3 linked regions of the Homo sapiens genome follow. The protein of the gene in region 1 purifies or fractionates together with the protein of each later gene. This does not show direct contact. Each region holds a gene or a part of one and is shown in the gene's direction. Other genes may lie near its edges.

Evidence for each region. The genes of interacting proteins can lie anywhere in the genome.
Region 2: the proteins of SLC15A3 (region 1) and EI24 purify together in Homo sapiens (affinity purification with mass spectrometry; 2 studies listed by BioGRID and IntAct, with this or other methods). This does not show direct contact.
Region 3: the proteins of SLC15A3 (region 1) and CLGN purify together in Homo sapiens (affinity purification with mass spectrometry; 2 studies listed by BioGRID and IntAct, with this or other methods). This does not show direct contact.

The regions. Positions count from the first base shown.
Region 1 is NC_000011.10:60,949,177-60,956,519, reverse strand, and holds the start of SLC15A3 (solute carrier family 15 member 3), read left to right. Parts: upstream 1-4,343; 5' UTR 4,344-4,968; coding exon 4,969-5,526; intron 5,527-7,343. UniProt on the Homo sapiens protein: Proton-coupled amino-acid transporter that transports free histidine and certain di- and tripeptides, and is involved in innate immune response. Also able to transport carnosine.
Region 2 is NC_000011.10:125,564,917-125,572,480, forward strand, and holds the start of EI24 (etoposide-induced protein 2.4 homolog), read left to right. Parts: upstream 1-4,560; 5' UTR 4,561-4,657; intron 4,658-5,187; exon of another isoform or gene 5,188-5,274; intron 5,275-5,373; exon of another isoform or gene 5,374-5,526; intron 5,527-7,541; 5' UTR 7,542-7,564. UniProt on the Homo sapiens protein: Acts as a negative growth regulator via p53-mediated apoptosis pathway. Regulates formation of degradative autolysosomes during autophagy.
Region 3 is NC_000004.12:140,403,645-140,410,665, reverse strand, and holds part of CLGN (calmegin precursor), read left to right. Parts: intron 1-39; coding exon 40-113; intron 114-770; coding exon 771-829; intron 830-4,582; coding exon 4,583-4,724; intron 4,725-7,021. UniProt on the Homo sapiens protein: Functions during spermatogenesis as a chaperone for a range of client proteins that are important for sperm adhesion onto the egg zona pellucida and for subsequent penetration of the zona pellucida.

The DNA.
Region 1 (7,343 bases):
GAATGGGAATGATGTGTGGACAATTCAGCGGTAGGTTACCTGCAATTCCTGGTGCACCTGCTACACACCAGGGCATGCTGGGACTGACCACCCTGGAGTGAGCAGGATGTTAGGATTGGTCACTGCAGCATAAGAAGCTGCTGTGGATGAATGCCTGCATAGCAGTCAAAAAATTCCCCAGACTGTCACTGTCCTTCCCTCTACTTTGCCTCTCCTCAATCTGTGGCTATTATGCTTTTATCCAGGTGGCTCAATTTTTTAATTTTCACCTATTGTCAAGCCCAGGATCACCCTACAGGTGTAGAGAGTGGGTTGGCCAGGTATAAGAGAAATCTAAATTGTTCTGAAGGTGTGAGGCAGGCCTTGGCTAGATCTGGGGGATAACCTTGCCTCAACTGCAGGGGCCACCTCTTGGTCCTGCTTGCACAGTCTTGATGAGGCTGTGTGTATTTGATGCTCACCTGTGAACTATAAAACCTGTGGGCAACACAGCAGGATGGTGCCAGTGCATTACTAAGAAATTGTACCTGGAGAGTGAAAGTTGGATCAAGGTTTCATTGCTTCATTTTTTTCAACCACATAAAGTAATTGTGCTGGGTTTTAAAAGGTAGAGCTGGGGGCCTAAGTGGTTAGTCAAGTCCTACTTTTGAACTTCCTAAAATCTGACGTCTCTCACCCTGCCCTGGCAGAGTGCCATCAGGAGAATCTAGGAGACTCGAGAAGCCACTTCACCTAACATCCTCATTGTGATCTCTCTAAGAAAGCTCGCTGATGACGCAGCCCCTGTGCTTCTCACACTCAACAGTAGCTGTGTTAGATGCACAGGTAAAAAGGCTCATTTTCACCAGCCTCCAACCAAGGCATCTGCAGGGACACTTCAGCATGTCACCGCACCAGACAGTGTTGCTGCCCTTGGCTCTCTGTGAGCATGCAGGCCCAGAGATGCCAGATCCTCTGCAATTTCAGGAGTAGCCAAAAGTCCGGATCTTCATGCTAATACTTCTGATTTTTTTTTTTTTTTTGAGATAGAGTTTCGCTCTTGTCGTCCAGGCTGGAGTGCAATGGTGCGATCTGGGCTCACTGCAACCTCCGCCTCCTGGGTTCAAGCGATTCTCTTGCCTTAGCCTCCTGAGTAGCTGGGATTACAGGCCTGTGCCACCACGCCCGGCTAATTTTGTGTTTTCAGTAGAGATGGGGTTTCTCCATGTTGGTCAGGCTGGTCTCGAATTCCCGACCTCAGGCGATCCACCCACCTCGGCCTCCGAAAGTGCTGGGATTACAGGCGTGAGCCACCGTGCCCGGCCAATACTTCTGAATTTTTAAGGAGATAACTAAAACTTCAAAAATGTTTTAAAATTAAAAAACAATATGGCCGGGCACGGTGGCTCATGCCTATAATCCCAGCACTCTGGGAGGCCGAGGTAGGTGGATCACTTGAGGTCAGGAGTTTGAGGCCAGCCTGGCCACCATGGCGAAACCCCTTCTCTACTAAAAATACAAAAATTAGCTGGGCACGGTGGCGGGCACCTGTAGTCCCAGCTACTCGGGAGGCTGAGGCACGAGAATCTCTTGAACCCAGGATTCGGAGGTTGCAGTGAGCCGAGGTCACCCCACTGCACTCCAGCCTCCAGCCTGGGTGACACAGTGAGACTCCATCTCAAAAAAAAATAAAAATAAAAAAATAAAAAGAGAAACAGTAACAGAAGCTACAACAAAAACTAAACACCATGTAACTAAACACTATCAGAGCCAAACCACATAGACCTGTGGGTCACGGCCATGGCCCACCAGCTCTGGGGCTCCTCAGTTCTAAGATTCTGCTCTCCAGCTCCCTCCCACTGGTCATCAGTGTTGTGACTCGTGCCCTGGGTGACAGTCATGTCCGCTTTTGGAACATTACTTCCCCTATCTGCAAGAGGCAAGTCACCCCTACCTTCTCCCCAGCTAAATGTGTCCCCAGGACTTTCCCCAGTGAACCAGCCCAGCACCTGGCCCCCTGGTACCTTGGAGATGGAGGCTGGGCAGTAAGAAAGACGCTGGGCTGGGTGCGGTAGCTCACACCTGTAATCCCAGCACTTTTGAAGGCCAAGGCAGATGGATTACCTGAGGTCAGGCATTTGAGACCAGCCTGGCTGACATGGTGAAACCCCATCTCCACTAAAAAACACAAAAATTAGCCGGGCGTGGTGGCACACGCCTGTAATCCCAGCTACTCAGGAGGCTGAGGCAGGAGAATTGCTTGAGCCTGGGAGGCAGAGGTTGCAGTGAGCCGAGATCGTGCCACTGCACTCCAGGCTGGCCAACAGAGTGTGACTCTGTCTCAAAAAAAAAAAAAAAAAAAAAAAAAAAGATGCTGCACTCCTCTTTTCTTTGCTACTTTCCTCTCCTGGGTTTTTCTCTGCAGGCCACACTGCTTTTAGAAGCCTTTCCCTTCATCTACCACCCGCTGAACATCACCGATGGCAGGCCAGCACTCTCTCAGCTCTCTGGGTAAGACTCAGCTCTCTGGGCTAAGTCTGAGCTCATCTGCCAGCCTAGTGATCTTGCCAAGAGAGGAAGGAGCTGGATCTGATGTGATCTGAACTTCGTCACCATACCGTCACAGCTGATGACCTAAGCTTCCTCCAAGTCGAGGGATGGTGCAGCTCCATTGAAGTCTCCTCTTCTCTCCTCCAGGCTCTGCCCACCTCACGAGAGCACATGGTCCTGACTGCAGTGACTGCAGGAAGACCTGGGATGGAGGGCTTTGCTTTCTCACCATCCTCTTGGCCTGGCTTCTCTAACATGTTAAAAACTTACAGTGGCCCACAACTGTAATCCCAGGACTTTGGGAGGCCGAAGCAGGTGGATCATGAGGTCAGGAGTTTGAGACTAGCCTGACCAACATGGTGAAATCCCATCTCTACTGAAAATACAAAAATTAGCCAGGCGTGATGGCACGCGCTTGTAATCCCAGCTACTCAGAAGGCTGAGGCAGGAGAATTGCTTGAACTCAGGAAGTGGAGGTTGCAGTGAGCCGAGATTGTGCCACTGCATGGCAGCCTGGGCGACAGAGTGAGACTTCGTCTCAAAACAAACATACAAACAAACAACAACAACAAAAAATCCCTCGCTTTTTTGCTGGTATCTATAGTGCTTTTTTTGCTGGTATCTATAGCTTTTGTGAGACTCAGTTTATTTAGCTTTAGCTTTCCTGATATTATTATTCTTACAAATTTTGCCTTGGGACACTCTTTCCATTCATTGATTCAGGCAATACTTATTGAGCACCTACTATTTGCCAAGCACTGGGAAGCCATTGAGAATAAAACAGTGAAGAGTTAGAAAAGGTCTCTGATCTGATGGAGGGCCTATTCTACTGGTGCTAACTGAACAAGTAATATGTGCTCTGAAGACATTAAAACAAGACAATGTGATGGGGGATGCTGAGAATCCAGTAGGAAACTACTTAGATGGGAAAATCAGGGAAGGTCCCTACAAAGGAGACATATATGCTGAAACCTCAATAAAGAGAAGCAGCCAGCCATGCAAGGATATGGAGGGAGAGCAGTTATGGCAGAGGGGTCAGCAAAGACAAAGGCCCTGAGGCAGGGAGGAGCTTAGCATGGAAGGGGAACCTGGGAGGCCGGCTGGCTGGACTTGAGTGAACATGGGGCTGAGATGAGATCAGAGGAGAGCAGAGGCCAGATCCCCCGGGCTCCTAGGTCAGGGTGGGGCTGGTGCTTAGGAGTTCTGAGGCTGACTCTGATTTAGTCTGAGGTCGGTGTCCCTCTCAATCCCGACTCACTTGTGGTCCTCTATGGCCCGCAGGCTTGTTGAAAGTGCCCCACTTCCTTCCTCACAGCAGCCTCTGTGCAATCCGAATTGCGCTGTGAATTTCCCTGCCACTCAGGAGCCCGGGGCAGGGCTTCACCCCTAGTTCAGTTACCAGGAACCAATCTTTCTCCACCTTCCTGCCCTAGCCCCACTGGGTCTGTCTCTGCATCTGTGAAATGGCTGAGTGTGACCAAATGATGCAGGTAGCCTTTCCACTTCTTTCTACCCGTGGCGCCTCGGGTGGAGGCGTGGAGTTTGATTGGAAGAGGGTAAAGCAAAAGTGGAATCCTGGCGAGAAATGAAACTGAAAGAAAAAATTCCTCCTGGAATTTTTTGGCTCTAAGGAGGCCAGCAGCGGGGGTTTGGGGTAGGAGGCAGAGGTAGAGAAGGAGGGAGGTTTTTAGAAAGCTGACCGGGCAGGAGCCCTGTGACCCAGGCTTTCACTTCTCCTAAACACCCAGTAGCGCCATGTGATGCAGGCAGGGGACTGCGGATAGGGCCTGTGAAAGGGGAAGCGAGGGGAGCCCAGAGTTTCTCAAGAAGCCGAGAGAGGGACAGAGGCTGAGCCTGGGGGGAGGGCTGCAGGGGACTGAGAGGGGAGTGTAGGCAGTGGGGGTGAGGGGGACAGGGAGGAGGTGGAGAAGACGGCAAGGGGCAGCAGGGTGACTGGGGCAGAGGGAGCCCCCACCCCACGCCCAGGGCAGGCCAGGAGTCATAAGGAGAGGGGACAACAGGAAGGGGCGACAAACGGGGAGGGGAAAGGGAGGCGGAGGGGCAGCGAAGTGAAGCAGGGAGGGTCGCAGTGTGAACAAGAGTGCGAGGAAGGGTCAAGGTGGAGGGAGGAGAGGGGAGAGTTAGGGAGAAACAGCTGCAGGAGAGGCGCGGGGAGGAAGCCTTAGGGGTGGGGGAAGGGAGAGGGGAGTTGAGAATTAGGGAGGAGGTGGTAGAGTCCGGGTAGTGAGCGGAGGGACAGGAAGGGTAGGGCAAGAAAGGGAGAGGGGACAGGAGGGAAGGGTGGGCCAAAGCGGTGAGAAAGGAGGGCCAGCCAGTTGGGTGGGGGAGAGGGCCGAGGCCCGGGGGCAGGAGTGCAGGGCTCTGAGGCGGGGAGAGGAGAGGAGAGAAGAGCCGCGGGGGGCCCAGCCCGGAGCCAGGATGCCCGCGCCGCGCGCCCGGGAGCAGCCCCGCGTGCCCGGGGAGCGCCAGCCGCTGCTGCCTCGCGGTGCGCGGGGCCCTCGACGGTGGCGGCGGGCGGCGGGCGCGGCCGTGCTGCTGGTGGAGATGCTGGAGCGCGCCGCCTTCTTCGGCGTCACCGCCAACCTCGTGCTGTACCTCAACAGCACCAACTTCAACTGGACCGGCGAGCAGGCGACGCGCGCCGCGCTGGTATTCCTGGGCGCCTCCTACCTGCTGGCGCCCGTGGGCGGCTGGCTGGCCGACGTGTACCTGGGCCGCTACCGCGCGGTCGCGCTCAGCCTGCTGCTCTACCTGGCCGCCTCGGGCCTGCTGCCCGCCACCGCCTTCCCCGACGGCCGCAGCTCCTTCTGCGGAGAGATGCCCGCGTCGCCGCTGGGACCTGCCTGCCCCTCGGCCGGCTGCCCGCGCTCCTCGCCCAGCCCCTACTGCGCGCCCGTCCTCTACGCGGGCCTGCTGCTACTCGGCCTGGCCGCCAGCTCCGTCCGGAGCAACCTCACCTCCTTCGGTGCCGACCAGGTGAGTGGCAGGAGGCCTGCCCCGGCATACTCCGGCGGGTGTGGAGGGAAGGAGGGCTGGCCCCCAGCGTGACCTGGGACAAACCAGGTCCCCTGCCTGCACTAGTTTCCTGATTTGAAAGAAGAGGGGGGCTAGCCCTTGCAAAACCGATGGCAACCGCAGTGGGAATAACCATGGTTGTTTTTTTGTTTGTTTTATTTTTTGAGACGGAGTTTCACTCTGTCGCCCAGGCTGCAGTGCAATGGCGCGATCTCAGCGCACTGCAACCTCAGCCTCCCGGGTTCAAGCGATTATCCCTCCTTAGCCTCCAGAGTAGCTGGGATTACAGGGGCCTGCCACCACGCCCAACTAATTTTTGTAATTTTTTTTTTTTTTTAAGTAGAGGTGGGGTTTCACCATGTTGGTCTTGAACTCCTGACCTCAGGTGATCCACCTGCCTAGGCCTCCCAAAGTGCTGGGATTACAGGCATGAGCCACCACGCCAGGCAGGTTGGTCTTTTTTGAGCTACTTGCAGGCCCTATGCTAAGCACTTTCACTGTTTAACTGATTTAATACTCTTCACCACCCAGGAAGTAGGAATTATTATGCCCATTTTACAGAGAAAGACACTGAGAGGTTTCATGGCATTAATCAACTTGCCCAAGGTGACATGGAGGGTCGAGGAGCCGAGTAAAGGCAGCTGGACTCCAGGTCCCACCATGAACCTCCTCTCTGTGTGTTATGGGGATGTGCGGGCAGGGCAGGAGCAAGCCAGCTTCTTCCTACCAGCAGTGCTAGAGGCTGTCAGGCCGACTTGCTCAGATCCCAGCTCTGCCTTTCACTAGCTGGAGCCACATGGGCAAGAACTCATTTATATCCTGAATGGGCTGCCTGGTCTTCTCCCTTAGCTCAACCTCTGAGCCTTTCTCCGTTCCCCCTTGAACAGAGCATGGCACGTAGAAGAAATTTAATAAGTATTTGCTAAATGAATGAGTAAATGCCCAACAACACGGCTATATTTTGATAGCTGTTCCCAGTGGGATATTAGACAATAATTTAGACTAAAATGTAATATTATTAAAATAACCACATATGGTGTAAATGAGCAAAAGCAGGAGGCAGGACTGCATACAGATAGGACTGCAGCCATGTGGAAAGACGAGGTGTCAACGAAAGGAAACTGGAAAAAGATTGTCACAGTGGTATGATCAGGCCACTGGACTAATTGCACTTTCTTCTTGTCTCAGTTTATCAAATGTTCTTTGATTGCACATATTATACTCATAAAGGGGACATTTTTCAAAAGGATCGTTTCATCCAATTGGCACCCACAATTCAGCACCTAGCAGTTTCCAGTGTCCTTGACAAGGAGTCACTTGTCCAGCTTGTTTAGGATCCTTTGATGATGACTTCATGCCCCCAGGCCAGCCCTGGCCATCTCTTTTCTTTCTTTCTTTCTTTCTTTCTTTCTTTCTTTCTTTCTTTCTTTCTTTCTTTCTTTCTTTCTTTCCTTCTTTCTTTCTTTCTTCCTTTCTTTCTCTTTCTCTCTCTCTCTTTCTTTCTCTTTCTTTCTTTCTTTCTTTCTTTCCTTCTTTCTTTCTTTCTTCCTTTCTTTCTCTTTCTCTCTCTCTCTTTCTTTCTCTTTCTTTCCTTCTTTCCTTTCTTTCTTCCTTTCTTTTGACGGAGTCTCGCTCTGTTGCCTACGCTGGAGTGCAGAGGTGCGATCTCAGATCACTGCAACCTCCACCTCCCGGGCTCAAGCAATTCTCCCTGCCTCAGCCTCCCAAGTAGCTGGGATTATAGGTGCCCGCTACCACGCTGGCTAGTTTTTGTATTT
Region 2 (7,564 bases), about 65 Mb from region 1:
TTTGCCATTATCCCCAATAAACACTCCACAAAGGGCTATGAAGGGGATGATTTGTCCCAACTAGTACTCTAGCTTCTACCTGATACTTTGTGGGCTCAGGTGATTTTACTATTTCCCATTAACATGTCCAACTAACACTTTTCAAAAGAGCAGCTTTACATGTCTTTGGTTTTATAGTACTAGATAGGGGAAGCATCCTCCAGCTAGATACAATACCCATTTTCATAAGACATTTAGGCAAAGAGATTACAACTACGTTACATAAACCCTGTTTAAACATCTTAAATTTCATAATTCTATTAACCTGTACATTTTTTGGTTCTACCCCCAGATGATTTTACCTTTCCTGGCAAAAAAAAGGGCTTGAGTTCCCAGCAGGGAGTTGCATCTGTAAGACCCATGAGGAATGGCAGTTTTTTTTTGTTTTTTTTTTTTTTGAGACAGAGTCTCGCTCTAGTGCCCAGGCTGGAGTGCAGTGGCACAATCTCAGCTCACTGCAACCTCCACCTCCCAGGTTCAAGTGATTCTCCTGCATCAGCCTCCTGAGTAGCTGGGACTACAGGTGTGCACAACCACACCAGGCTAATTTTTGTATTTTTAGAAGAGACAGGGTTTCACCATGTTGTTCAGGCTGGTCTCAAACTTCTGACCTCAGGTGATCCACCCGCCTCTGCCTCCCAAAGTACTGGGATTACAGGCATGAGCCACCATACTGGCCAACACTTTCATTATTTTCTTTCTCTCTCTCTTTTTTTCTTTTAGCAACCACAGGCAAAACAAAGAGGAGCACTACTTTAATAATGACAATACACAACCTAAATTTAAATGAGAAGACTTTTGTGATCCATAATGGAACACAAATATGGTAGAGGAAAGGGTGTGGAATCGGGCGTTAGACAAACCTGGTTGGAGTTTTTTTTTCTTAATAGGAAGGCATGGAATTTTTTTTTAAATCAGCTACAACAGCTACTCAGGAGGCTGAGGCAAGAGGATTGCTTAGGCCCAGGAGGTCAAGGCTTCAGTGAGCCATGATCATGCCACTGTACTCCAGCCTGAGTGTCAGAGTGAGACTCTATCTCAAAAACAAAAAAAAATAGTGATAATTTTTCATTACAACACTTAAATTGTTGTTGAAATAATAAATATAAAAGGCTTGGTATAGTAGATGCTTAATAAATCATAGTATCTCTCTCTCCTAGAAGATTCCAAGGCTGGAAGCTAGGAGATCTGGCCCCTAATGATGCAGGATTTTTCTTGGCCCCTTTGACAAACTCATGGAAGGGGGCGCCTTGTCTACCAGGCCCACCACAATCAACCACTTGCAGGAGGGAGCACATGAGCAAGCAAGTTCAAGATCCAGCCAGCCACTCTGGGCACTGGCACAGGAGCAAGCTCTGTGTGGGGCCTGTGGCCAGACCAGGCATGTTGCCTCAAGAGGAACACTGCAGTGCCCAGGTGAAAGTGCCCATGACCCTGAAGCCTCAGAGCGGGTGTTACAGTGCTCCTTTAGTTTCATCATCCACAAACAGCAGTGTGTTAGTAGCTCAGTTGGCCCTTTGCCTTGTCACGTGGGGCAGCTGCCTTCCACTGGTGGGGGCAAAGGACCAGTGTGACAGCCTTTCTGGGTACCTGTACTTGGTGGGTCCCAAGCTCTTGTCCAGTGTCCAAGAAGAATGAGGTCACATGCAGGATTGAAGGATGGCGGGCCAGGTGCGGTGGCTCACGCCAGTAATCTCAACACTTTGAGAGCCTGAGGTGGGTGGATCACCTGAGGTCAGGAGTTTGAGATCAGCCTGGCCAACATGGTGAAACCCCATCTCTACTAAAAATACAAAAACTTAGCTGGGCGTGGTGGCAGGTGCCTATAATCCCAGCTACTTAGGAGGCTGAGGCAGGAGAATTGCTTGAACCCAGGAGGCATAGGTTGCAGTGAGCTGAGATTGCACCATTGCACTCCAGCCTGGGTGACAGAGCAAGACTCTGTCTCAAAAAAAAAAACAAAGAAAAAAACAAAGAAGGATGTTGAGGGCAGAGAATTTTTTTTAGTGATGAAAACGAGTCTCAGCAGTGAGGGGAGCTGGAGAAGGGACAGGAAGGGCAGGTCGTCTTCCTCAAAGTCAGGCGGTCTCCCACTCTACTGACTAAGTCAGGGGTCCTTATAGGCACAGGATGGGGAGTATGTGCAGATTGGTTTGTGGCTATGCAAGAAAGGTTAAAGCAAAGGCACCACTCAAAGGTGGGCACAACAGTGTAGAAAACCAATCAGGAAAGGGTAGGTATATGTAAAATAGGTGAAGGGTGGGGATCAATCAGAGGAAAACATGCAAGACAGGAAGACAAGTTCTCAATCTGGTCTGAGGACTTAACTTGTAGCTTGGCTTTCGAGCTTTAAACTGTTTTTGGCTTGGAGGTGGGGTTTCAATGGGGACCCGCCACTAACTGCCTAGGCATTTGGCTGTCTCCTGTCGCTATCACTAGATCTAGTATTGTTATCATTTCACTAAATCATATATCCATACAGTTAAAAAACACCTTCATATATATACCATTTATTTCAGCAGCCTGTGTTAAAGAAACTAAGGTTTGGGCCAGGCGTGCTGGCTCACACCTGTAATCCCAGCACTTTGGGAGGCCAAGGCGGGTGGATCACGAGGTCAGAAGATCGAGACCATCCTGGCTAACATGGTGAAACCCCGTCTCTACTAAAAATACAAAAAATTAGCCGGGCGTGGTGGCGGGCACCTGTAGTCCCAGCTACTTGGGAGGCTGAGACAGGAGAATGGTGTGAACCCGGGAGGTGGAGCTTGCAGTGAGCCAAGATAGAGAGACACTGTCTCAAAAAAAAAAAAAAAAAAAAAAAGAAACTAAGGTTCACAGCTTAACTGGAGGTCATGTCTTCTCAAAGTGCTCTGCCACAAACTTCCTCATTTGTGAAATTTGGAAAATAATATCCTCTACTTGTCCACAAATAGCATCTAATCATACATAAGCATGTGAGAGCTCTTTAAAAATGCAAGGTATTAATTATTATTGGTTTTTATTTTAAATGTGGTTATACATGTTGAGATTTAAAAGATTTCCTCCCGGCCAGGCGCAGTGGCTCACGCCTGTAATCCCAGCACTTTGGGAGGCTGTAGGTGGGCGGACCACGAGGTCAGGAGATCGAGACCATCCTGGCTAACACGGTGAAACCCCGTCTCTACTAAAAATACAAAAAAATTAGCCATGCTTGGTGGCAGGTGCCTGTAGTCCCAGCTACTCAGGAGGCTGAGGCAGGAGAATGGCGTGAACCCAGGGGGCGGAGCTTGCAGTGAGCCGAGATCGCACCACTGCACTCCAGCCTGGGAGACAAAGACAGACTCAGTCTCAAAAAAAAAAAAAAAAAAAGATTTCCTCCCATGAAGTAAGCCAGAATAAACTCATACCTACTAAATTCTTTCTAAAATCTTTTCTAAATTGACACTCTTGAGAAAGAATAGAGCTTGGAGGAAGAGCTATTATTATAATTAATAGCACAATAATCAGTTTGTCATTAAACCACTTAGGTCTCTTTGTAACAAGATTTCTAAGCTTTAGTAGATGGATTCCTTATTCTATTCTATTTTATATTGTTTTGTTTTGTTTTATTTTATTTTATTTTTCGAGACAGTCTAGCTGTGTCACCCAGGCTGAAGTGCAGTAGTGCGATCTCGGCTCACCGCAACCTCTGCCTCCTGAATTGAAGTGATTCTCATTCCTTAGCCGACCAAGTAGCTGGGACCACAGGTGTGTGCCACCATGCCCAGCTAATTTTTTGTATTTTTAGTAGAGACGGGATTTCACCATCTTGGCCAGGGTGGCCTCAAGTGATCTGCCCGCCTCAGCTTCCCAAAGTGCTGAGGTTACACGCATGAGCCACCGTGCCCAGCCACTTATTTTATTTCATTTTTTAAATTTATTATTATTATTATTATTTTGAGACTGAGTCTTGCTCAGTCGCCCAGGCAGGAGTGCAGTGGTGTGATCTCGGCTCACTGCAACCTTCATCCCCTGAGTTCAAGTAATTCTCCTGCCTCAGCCTCCTGAGTAGCTGGGACCACAGGCAGGTACCACCACACCTGGCTAATTTTTGTTATTTTAGTAGAGATGGGGTTTCGCTATGTTGGCCAGGCTGGTCTTGAACTCCTGACCTCGTGATCTGCCTGCCTTGGCCTCCCAAAATGCTGGGATTAAAGGCATCCTGTTACTAATTTCACAGGATTTTAGAAACGCAAGCAGCGTTGTGGAGTCAATGGGGGAGGGCAAAGAACAGGAGGAGAGATCTGTGAGAACGGGATCGGCGAGGAGGCGACGGGGAGGAGGCGACGCGGAGGGGTGAGGGGTCCTCTCCGCCGCCAGGCGGAGTTGGGAGCCGGACGATCCCGCACGCAGCGCGAGGCGGGACCCCGGACTGACTACATTTCCCAGTCTCCGTCGCTCCGCGCGGCCCACCCCTTCGGCTCTGGGCCCCGCCTCGTGGTGCCGGCTGGTTCTTCGCGCTCGCCCGACTTCCCAGCGGCCCCGTGCGGCCCGGGCATGCCCAGTGCGGGCGCAGCGGCCCCGGCCCTGGAAGCGCCCCGGCGGAGCTGGCCTGCGGTGGGCTAGGGGCAGGGCCGGAGCCGCGGCGGCGGAGCTGTGGGTAGGTGCGGGCTCAGCCGAGCTAGGCCTCGGGGCCGCCGCGCCGCCCATTCTGAGTGGCAGGGACCGGGAGGGCAGGCAGGGCCCGAGCGTGGGTTGGTGGGGCTACCGGCGAGGACCCCTTATGGGAAGGGGCCGGAGGGAGCGGGACGGGGCCGGGCACATCCCCGGGCGAGGCTGCCCCAGGTGCGGCGCAGCTATCTTTAGCTCCCTGTGTGACCCGGAGCGTGCGTGATCCGCACCTCGCGTGATCCGTACCTCGTGCACAGTTGTGCCTAGGGAGACCAGTTTTCTGCCGAATTGCCTAGGAGCTGTGGGGAGATGGGCCTGAATGGACCCGTGGACTCAGAGGCAGCCCGTGGAGCCCCGTGGGAAGTGAGGATGTTTACCTTCCCTGTACCTGGAGTGGGCTACGACAGCTTCCTGTTTGCCGAGACTTGGGTTTAGTGACTTAGAAATAAAAGTGTGTCTCAGCAGATGCTTATTAGCTTCTAATGACTGTTGGGAATTTAATGGCATTTGTATTTCCAGGTTTGAGAGGTTATTTGTCCATGGGATGCTCGTGTTAAAACAAAAATCTTCATTGCAAAGCTTAAGTAAAAACAAGTCTCGACCGAGGTAACGTTAGAACACCGGGTTCTGAGGTTCACTGTAGCTGCCATTCATTTGCTGTCAGTCTGGGCAAGTCATTTAACTTCTGAGACTGGGTTCTCTCACCTGTTAAATGAGCCAGATGCATCTTCATCTGTCTAGCTCAGCTGTAGGATTCCCCCTGTGTCATTCAGTCTGTGTGTGTGTTCTCAAATTGTGGCAGGTTATTTTTCCCCATGCCTCAGCTATTTGTCAGACTGGGTAATTCACCAAATATTCCTGTAGGAAGGATGTTAGGATCTAAGTATAAAAGTGAAGTGATTTATCCTTCATAGGTCACTCTTAGGAGGTGTCCTGCCACTTGGTACATGCAGAAACCAGGTGTTAGCTGGCCAGGGATCAAATGACACAGCTGTTGTGGACTGAGACAGAATGTTTCAGGTTCCCTGTCAGTTCCCTGTGAGAAATCCAGGCCAAGTAATGGGCTTCCTTAAACCTCCAAGCTGGCTCACTTTGGTGGGGTTGTGTTTATATAGAATTTTAAGTTTTTTTCATGCTGTTGTGCCCTATTAGATGCAAGAAACCTATGAAGAAGTTTAGTACCCTTAATTTATAGATGAGCCAGTGGCAGGTTACGGGAGTGGATCTGTGAGTCTTTACAAACTAGTGTCGTGCATATCACTGAGCCTTTGCTAGTTATCTAGCTCAGCTGCCCTCACCTCAACCCTGAGAACATGTCTGTATGGCTGTACCTACGCGACTGGAACTCTGAGGTGTTTGTTTTCAGGAGGAAACAGTGGGAGTATTAACAGAAGTTTCTTACCCTAGAGACTTCTATCCGAAGTGAGCCTATCTGTGTAGGATTTGACCTAAGGAGCAGAGGGTATATACAATGTTGGGCAAATTGCCTTCCTACTGCCATATCCCCTGCTCTTCCAGTTCTGAATGGCATTAGTCCAGTTGGGTCAATGAGGAGCAGTTTGGTGAAGTGGTTAAAGGTCGGGGAAAGTGTGCTTATATTTTGAAATTTAAGGTTTGTACAAGCTGCTTGTGAAATTCTGTCTTTGTATTATGGTCATACCTCTTAAACTGAGAATACTGCAACTTGATTGAGTGAGTGTTGAGAACTTTAGAATATCAGGTTCTTAAAAAATGCCTGAAAGTGGGTTTTCTATTCATCTTAGAAGTCACCACAGATTAAATGAGAGAATAGTATATTAATTACAAGTATTTCTCACATGAACTCTCAAGTTCTTAATTTTTGAAACTAGATATCCCATTCACCTGAGAAATAAAATGGGAAAGCCTTACTGTTTTAAAGACTGTTTATACATATGAACTTTTTTGAGGCCTAGTTTAAAATCCACTATTTATTGCATGTTTATTAAAATTGTATCTGTATATATTTAAAGTTAGAAAACAGAAAAGACCAGCCGGGCGTGGTGGCTCATGCCTGTAATCCTAGCACTTTGGGAGGCTGAGATGGATGGATCACCTGAGATCAGGAGTTTGAGATCAGCCTGGCCAACATGGCGAAACCCCATCTCTACTAAAAATACACAAAATTAGCTGGGCGTGGTGGCGGGTTCCTGTAATCTCAGCTACTCGGGAGGCTGAGGCAAGAGAATCACTTGAACCTGGGAGGTGGAGGTTGCAGTGAGCCGAGCCCAGTGTTGCACTCCAGCCTGGGCAACAAGAGCGAGACTCTGTCTCAAAAAATAAAATAAAATAAAAAAGACCTATTTGGAGGTTTTGGTACGCAATTTCATGTCATACCTTAAACTTTACTGTGCCCGAGGGCTCTGTATGACTGAAGCATGTATTTAGTAATTTTTGTAAGAACTTTTATCTTGCTCTTGTATTTTCATTCAAGTATTTGAAGGTATCCAGCAAACATAAAAATTGCTTAAGAAGATATTGAAATGTAATTATCTTCCATCTCCAAACCCTCAAAAGTGCTTAGAATGTGTAGGAGGGATAGTTAGGGGCATTGAGGCTCAGAGGAGGTTACTGGTCAAGAGCACATTGTAAAAATGTAAAATGTAAAAATGAGAGGGTGTAAAATGTAAAACCCCTTGTAAAAATGAAAGGGTGGTGAGTGTTTTAGAAAAAAAATAGGGATTTTAGGTTTCAGCTGTACAGGAATAGCTTCACTTGATTCACTCTATTAGTGCTAGAATCTACTGCTATCTTACTAGAGCTACAAGTATGTGAGGTCATCATGTGGAAATGTGCATGAAGTAACTTATCTTTAAAATAAATATTTGCCTCCATTATGTTCCATCTGTTTCCAGATCCTTCATGATGAGAGATTTGG
Region 3 (7,021 bases), on another chromosome or scaffold:
AAAATGAATAACTTTAGACTTGGAAAATCTCTTTTCTAGATTAAATATAAGACACCTCAACCTATAGGAGAAGTATATTTTGCAGAAACTTTTGATAGTGGAAGGTTGGCTGGGTGAGTATTCATTCAAGAGAATGTTTTCTTTGATTTATTAGCTTTTTTGAAGTTATTAGGTTTTGGCCTATGAAAATTATCTCTACTACAGATCTATAAAAAATTTTAAAGTAGTTTAATTGACAATGTAAATCAGTACTTAGTATATTTTTGTAATTGATAGAATGTTTAATTTGAATAGTTATTTATTCAAAGAAAATATACTAATTCCGAATGCAAAGATGAAATTTATAACATTTCTTTATTCTCTAGGACAGATTAACACTCTTAAGTTCAGATGACAAATATGAGTACTGCTCTACTCTAAATAATGGAAAAAACAAAAGTTAATATTAAATGATTATTATGTGTCAGATGTCCTTAAAAAAAGTAGATAATTACCATATTTAATCCCCATTTTACAGGTGGAGAAACCGAGGTTTCTTGTACCTTACCTGTGATCATACAGCTAGTAAATTATAGATTCCAAATTCGGTTTAACTCTAGCCCTTCAGGATTATGTGTAGGCATCCTTATTTAGCATCTAAGTATGAATTTATTGTTGAATGAAAAGTGACTGTATTGGGTGATCTTTTATTGTGTTTCTGTATGCCTTATATCTATAAATTGCTGCTTTTATTGTCAATGACATATATGTATGTTCAACTTTATTTACAGATGGGTCTTATCAAAAGCAAAGAAAGATGACATGGATGAGGAAATTTCAATATACGATGGTAAAATATTTATTTAAGTATTAGATATAACCAGTATGGCCTGGAGTTCACTAAACTTTGAGATTAGATTTTTGTTAAATTGTGTTGGCTGGAGTCCCCCACCCTGCCTCACAATAAAATGTTCAGTCTTTTATCTTGTCCCTCTTCAATATTTCTGAAAAACCCTTCGCTATTTCTGAAAATCTCACTCTTAAGCCAGTTAATCTAGTTTTCTAACTGAACAGTTGAATTTTCACTCTACTGCTGTTAGTCTTTTGCATTTCCTGAAGCAGTATTTCCCAGGCTACTGCTGTCTCTATGGTTTCATCTCAAGCATAGACACACCTTGATCTATAAATTAAATAAATTATAATTTATGGTAAGATTCTCCTAGCAAGTAAAAAGCAGAAGATAGCTAATGAGAGCTACAAGATATGTGGCTGCTTCTGGAATCCTCATCTCCAGGTCTATATCCATTATCATAGGGTGTCTAATAGGATTATCTTCAACCTTAGCTCTAGAAAGAAATGTCCTATAGGCAGGGGTCATATTGTCTTCCCTAATAGGACTACCCTAGAGTATGACCAAATATTTTCTTCTTTGTGGTCTAAAAACCAGCCTCCTTGATTGTTATATGCTGAAGCAAGATCAGCCTCTTCTCACAGTGACTGATAGTGGTAATTTCTTCTTTCTCAGAGGACCTCATACTCATAAACATGTGGCCCTGCACTCAGACTCTGATAAGCAGTTACATCACAACAGCAAAACAGATAGCATGTTGGATGTCAGCTGTCTGCTTCCTTTTCATAGTTTCTGTTTAGTGTAAGATAAAGATCATACCTGCATGTCTTCCTTTGCATGGTGTTCGCCATCCCAGCAAATCCCCTGTGTATATATATACACATATATACATATATACACAAATATATATACATATACACATATATGTGTGTATATATATGTGTGTGTGTGTATATATATATATATATATATATATGCTTATCAACTCCAAAAAGGACACCACCATATGCACAGAAAAAGCAGTAGTGGGATTTCTGGATCAAATAGTAGATCTACTTTCAGTTTTTTAATAAACCTCCATGCTGTTTTCCATAGAGGCTGTATTAATTTACATTGCACCAGCAGTGTATAAATGTTCCCTTTTTACCACATCCATGCCAATTGTTTTTTGACTTTTTAATAATGGCCATTCTTACAGGGGTAACGTAGTATCTCATTGTGGTTTTAATTTGCATTTCCTTGATGATTAGTGATGTTGAGCATTTTCTAAACATGTTCGTTGGCCATTTCTATATCTTCTTTTGAGAAATGTCTATTTATGTCATTTGCCTACTTTCTGATGGGATTAATTTTTTTCTTGCTGATTTGTTTGAGTCTCATGATTCTGGATACTAGTCCTTTGTCAGATTCATAGGTTATTAATATTTTCTCCCACACTGTGGGTTATCTGTTTACTCTGATGATTATTTCTTTCGCTGTGCAGAAGCTTTTTAGTTTAATTAGGTCCCATTTATTTATTTTTGTTTTTGTTGCATTTGCTTTTGGGTTCTTGGTCATGAATTCTTTGCCTAAGCCAATGTCTAGAAGAGTTTTTCTGGTGTTATCTTCTAGAATTTTCATGGTTTCAGATCTTAGGTTTAAGTCTTTAATCCATCTTGAGTTGATTTTTGTATAAGGTGACAAGTAAGGATCCAGTTTCATTCTTCTATATGTGGCTTGCCAGTTTTCTCAGTACCATTTATTAAATAGGGTGTCCTTTCCCTAATTTATATTTTTGTATGCTTGGTCAAAGATCAGTTAGTTGTAAGTATTTTGCTTTATTTCTGGTTCTTTATTCTGTTCCAGTGGTCTATGTGTCTACCTGAGACCATTACCATGCTGTTTTGATAGTATGGCCCTGTATAATTTGAAGTCAGGTAATGTGATGTCTCCAGATTTGTTCTTTTTGCTTAGGATTACTTTGGCTATTCAGGCTCTTTTTTGGTTCCATATGAACTTTTGGATTTTTTTTCCTAATTCTGTGAAAAATGTTTTTGGTATTTTCACAATAATCACACTGAATCTGTAGATGGCTTTGGGCGCTATGATCATTTTCATGATATTGATTCTTCCAATCCATGAGCATGGGATGTGTTTCCATTTGTTTGTGTCATCTATGATTTTTTTCAGCAGTGTTTTGTAGTCCTCCTTGTATAGATAGATCTTTCACCTCTGTTAAGAATATTCCTAGGGATTTTTTTTTTTTTTTTTGCAGCCATTGTAAAAGTCATTGAGTTCTTGATTTGATTTTCAGTTTGGTCGTTGTTGCTATGTAGCAGTACTACTGATTTGTGTACATTGATTTTGTAAGCTGAGACTTTTATTGAATTGATTTTTCAAGTCTAGTAGTCTATTGGATGAGTCTTTTGGGTTTTCTAGGTATGCAATCATATCATTAGCAAACAGTGATAGCTTGACTTCCTCGTTTCCAATTTGTATGTCCTTTATTTCTTTCTCTTGCCAGATTGCGCTGGCTAGGACTTCCAGATAAAGTTGTTACTTCTTAAAATAAGACCTTTATAGGGGGCGAGAGGCAAACTACAAGTTAGTGATAATACAATTCACCATCAATGTGAGAGAAAGAAAACCAAGTACATTAATCTTTTTCAAAAAAATATAATATGACCAAATCAGGGGGAGAAAGAAAAGAAACTTGGAAACTTAATAAAAACACACACATTTTTAAAAGTCTAAAAATGTATGTACAATTATAGACCAAAAATTACCCCTCTTTGATTTATAAGACTGTGTCTGGTTCTTGCATTATTTTTCTTAGAAAGAAAAAAAATGATATAAGAGCATTTGTGATTCAAAAGTGCTCATTAATGAATATTTTGAGTTGACACAATACTGGAAAATAGCCAGTTTTGTCGAATTGAATTTTCTTGGAATAGGCAATACCTATCATTTTCAAAACAGAAGATTTTACACAAACAAATATAAGTTGATTTTCTATTCTAAAACCAGTAAAGGAGTAAAGTCTAACATATAACTTTTGGGCTATAGGTAGCCCACCTAGCTTTGCATTGTATGTGGCCCATAATCTAATTTCAGGAATGTCCTGATCTTAACATGGAAAATTGTAACACAGAGAAGGCCTAACTCAGTTTTGCCTTGTTGTAGCTTAGCACTTATGCAGTGCTTTGCTGCCTTCCTGGCCAAAAGTTCTGAGAGCTGATTAGTGTACCCTGAGAAGGGTTTGTGTGAATTAAGCATGCAGTTTTCAAAATGAACTTTAAATCTTTACAATAACTGCTGCAAGTAAGAAAAGTAGCTGATGAGTATTGTGCATTTCAAAATAAATAGACTACTCATTTTGTGTTATGTGTCATATGCAGTTTCAAATATGTCATTTTGAAAATACAATATTGACATACCCTATTGAGACAAACCACATTTTATAATTTCATTGATTAAAAACTCTTTCATAGAAAAACCAAACTAATTCAGCTTTAAGAGTGACTTAATTAGACACTATAGTGTTTGCTATTAGTTTTCACAACTTTAGTTAAGAAGATGAAATCATTCTTTGATAGAAAAAAAAAGATAAATGAGCAGGCATACATATATAGTTGAAGATATTTCCTGATTTAAAATTTTTATTTTTCCCAAGTCAGGCTTCCTGGATAAAAATTATTGTTCACAACTGCTGATAAATAATTCTTAGGTCAATGTTTTCTGTTTTAGTTTAATTTGCTTTGCTTTATTTTTTAGGAAGATGGGAAATTGAAGAGTTGAAAGAAAACCAGGTACCTGGTGACAGAGGACTGGTATTAAAATCTAGAGCAAAGCATCATGCAATATCTGCTGTATTAGCAAAACCATTCATTTTTGCTGATAAACCCTTGATAGTTCAGTAAGTGTTGCTATGTTTTTGAATACTTTTTCTGAATTTTGTATTAGCTTTGGCTTCTGAATATAGCTTGTATTTTGAAAATGGATGTGAAAATCTAGATCTTCCTTTTTCGTTTCACTTAGTTAAAACACAAATGTGCATATACACACAAACATATCCATGCTTTCAATAAAAAGCAGGTAAATGATAAAATTATACAAAGATCAACCATTCTTATGGCCTAGTACTAATATTTATATTTGTTTATTTCAAGGAGTTGTATGTGGGCTATTAAGCAGCATATTTCCTTTGGTCTGAGTGCTTGTATTGACTAAATGAGGAATAAATAGTTTGGCTCTCTTAAAAAAATTTAAAAATTATGTGATATATACTGTAATATATACAATTCTGCTGTCATAAACTATATAATGCATAGTAAAAATCACCATTTTTGTTTTACTCTTAAAATTACTTGTTATCGCCGGGCGCGGTGGCTCACGCCTGTAATCCCAGCACTTTGGGAGGCCGAGGCGGGCAGATCACGAGGTCAGGAGATCGAGACCATCCTGGCTAAAACGGTGAAACCCCGTCTCTACTAAAAATACAAAAAATTAGCCGGGCGTAGTGGCGGGCGCCTGTAGTCCCAGCTACTTGGGAGGCTGAGGCAGGAGAATGGCGTGAACCCGGGAGGCGGAGCTTGCAGTGAGCCGAGATCCCGCCACTGCACTCCAGCCTGGGCGACAGAGCGAGACTCCGTCTCAAAAAAAAAAATAAAAAAAAAAATAAAAATAAAAAAAATTACTTGTTATCAAAATATTAAACAATATATTCAGAACAGAATAATAAAAATTGCTATTAAACCAGTGATAAGATTCAAAGGCAGAAAATTTATTTCAAAAATAAATGTTTATGAATACCAGTGTCTTTCAAGCAGGGACCCCTTTTAAAGGTCACATTCTCACAGATAATCCTTTCTTTCAACCTCTCCACCTCCCCACCATGCCTGGCATGGTGCCTCATGCCTCATGTGTGTAATCCCAGCACTTTGGGAGGCCTAGGTGGGCAGACAGCTTGAACCCAGGAGTTCAAGACCAACCTGGCAACATGGCAAAACCCCGACTCTACAAAAAAATTTTAAAAATTAGCCAGGCATGGTGGTGCCCGACTGTAGTCCCAGCTACTCTGGAGGCTGAGGTGGGAGGATCACCTAAGCCCAGGAAGTCGAGGCTGCAGTGAGCCAAGGTCACACCAGTGCATTGCAGCCTGGGTGACAGAATGAGATCTTGCCTCAAAAAAAAAGAAAGAAAGAAAAAAAAAGAGGACCAAGAATTGAATAGCAGTCTTTCATATGTTTAAAAACAATTCAAAGGAGAGTGAATGTTTGTCTCCTCTTAATATTGATAAAATGAAATGGGGTAAATAAAATGAAGAGATTTATATTCAATGCTATAAATGCTGATTTACAACATAACTTTACTATAAAGCTGCTTTTCCCAAATTGTATACATGTTAATATATATGAATATAATTAAAGATGAAGAATATCCTAACTCAAAACGTAGGAAGTAAAGGCCTGGCGCAGTGCTTCACACCTGTAATCCCAGCACTTTGGGAGGCCAAGGTGGGTGGATCACGAGGTCAGGAGATCAAGACCATCCTGTCTAACATGGTGAAACCCTGTCTCTACTAAAAATACAAAAAATTAGCCGGGTGTGGTGGCAGGCGCCTGTAGCCCCAGCTACTCGGGAGGCTGAGGCAGGAGAATGGCGTGAACCCGGGAGGCAGGGCTTGCAGTGAGCCGAGATCATGCCACTGCACTCCAGCCTGGGCAACTGGGCAACAGAGTGAGACTGTCTCAAAAAAAAAATAAATAAATAAATAAAAATAAAATTAAAAAAGGAAGTATGTTAGCTCATTAAAGACTGAGAAGTTCTACATATGAAAACCTGTTTTCAGCATTACTACTGTGTTTCCCAAACACATTTGATCACATAAGTTTATTTTCCCACCTAACAGTAATTGCTATTTCATGGAACAATTTGAGAAATGATACTCTAAAGAAATTAAGGTTACCATATACTCTGCATATGTCCTTGGTTTTCCTATGACTGGAAGTTTAGCAGTAGTCAAGCTGTATGATAAACATTTTGTTGATCCTCTAATCCATTGTGAATCATTTATACTAGGTAAAAGTTAATTATTTGAAAACTCTAAAAGTTTGCAGTATAAGAAATGGACAAGGTGATTGAATCTAGGCATAATGGAACAATGAAACTGTGTTCACATTTATGCAGCCACTGTACAAAATTGTTTTTTCC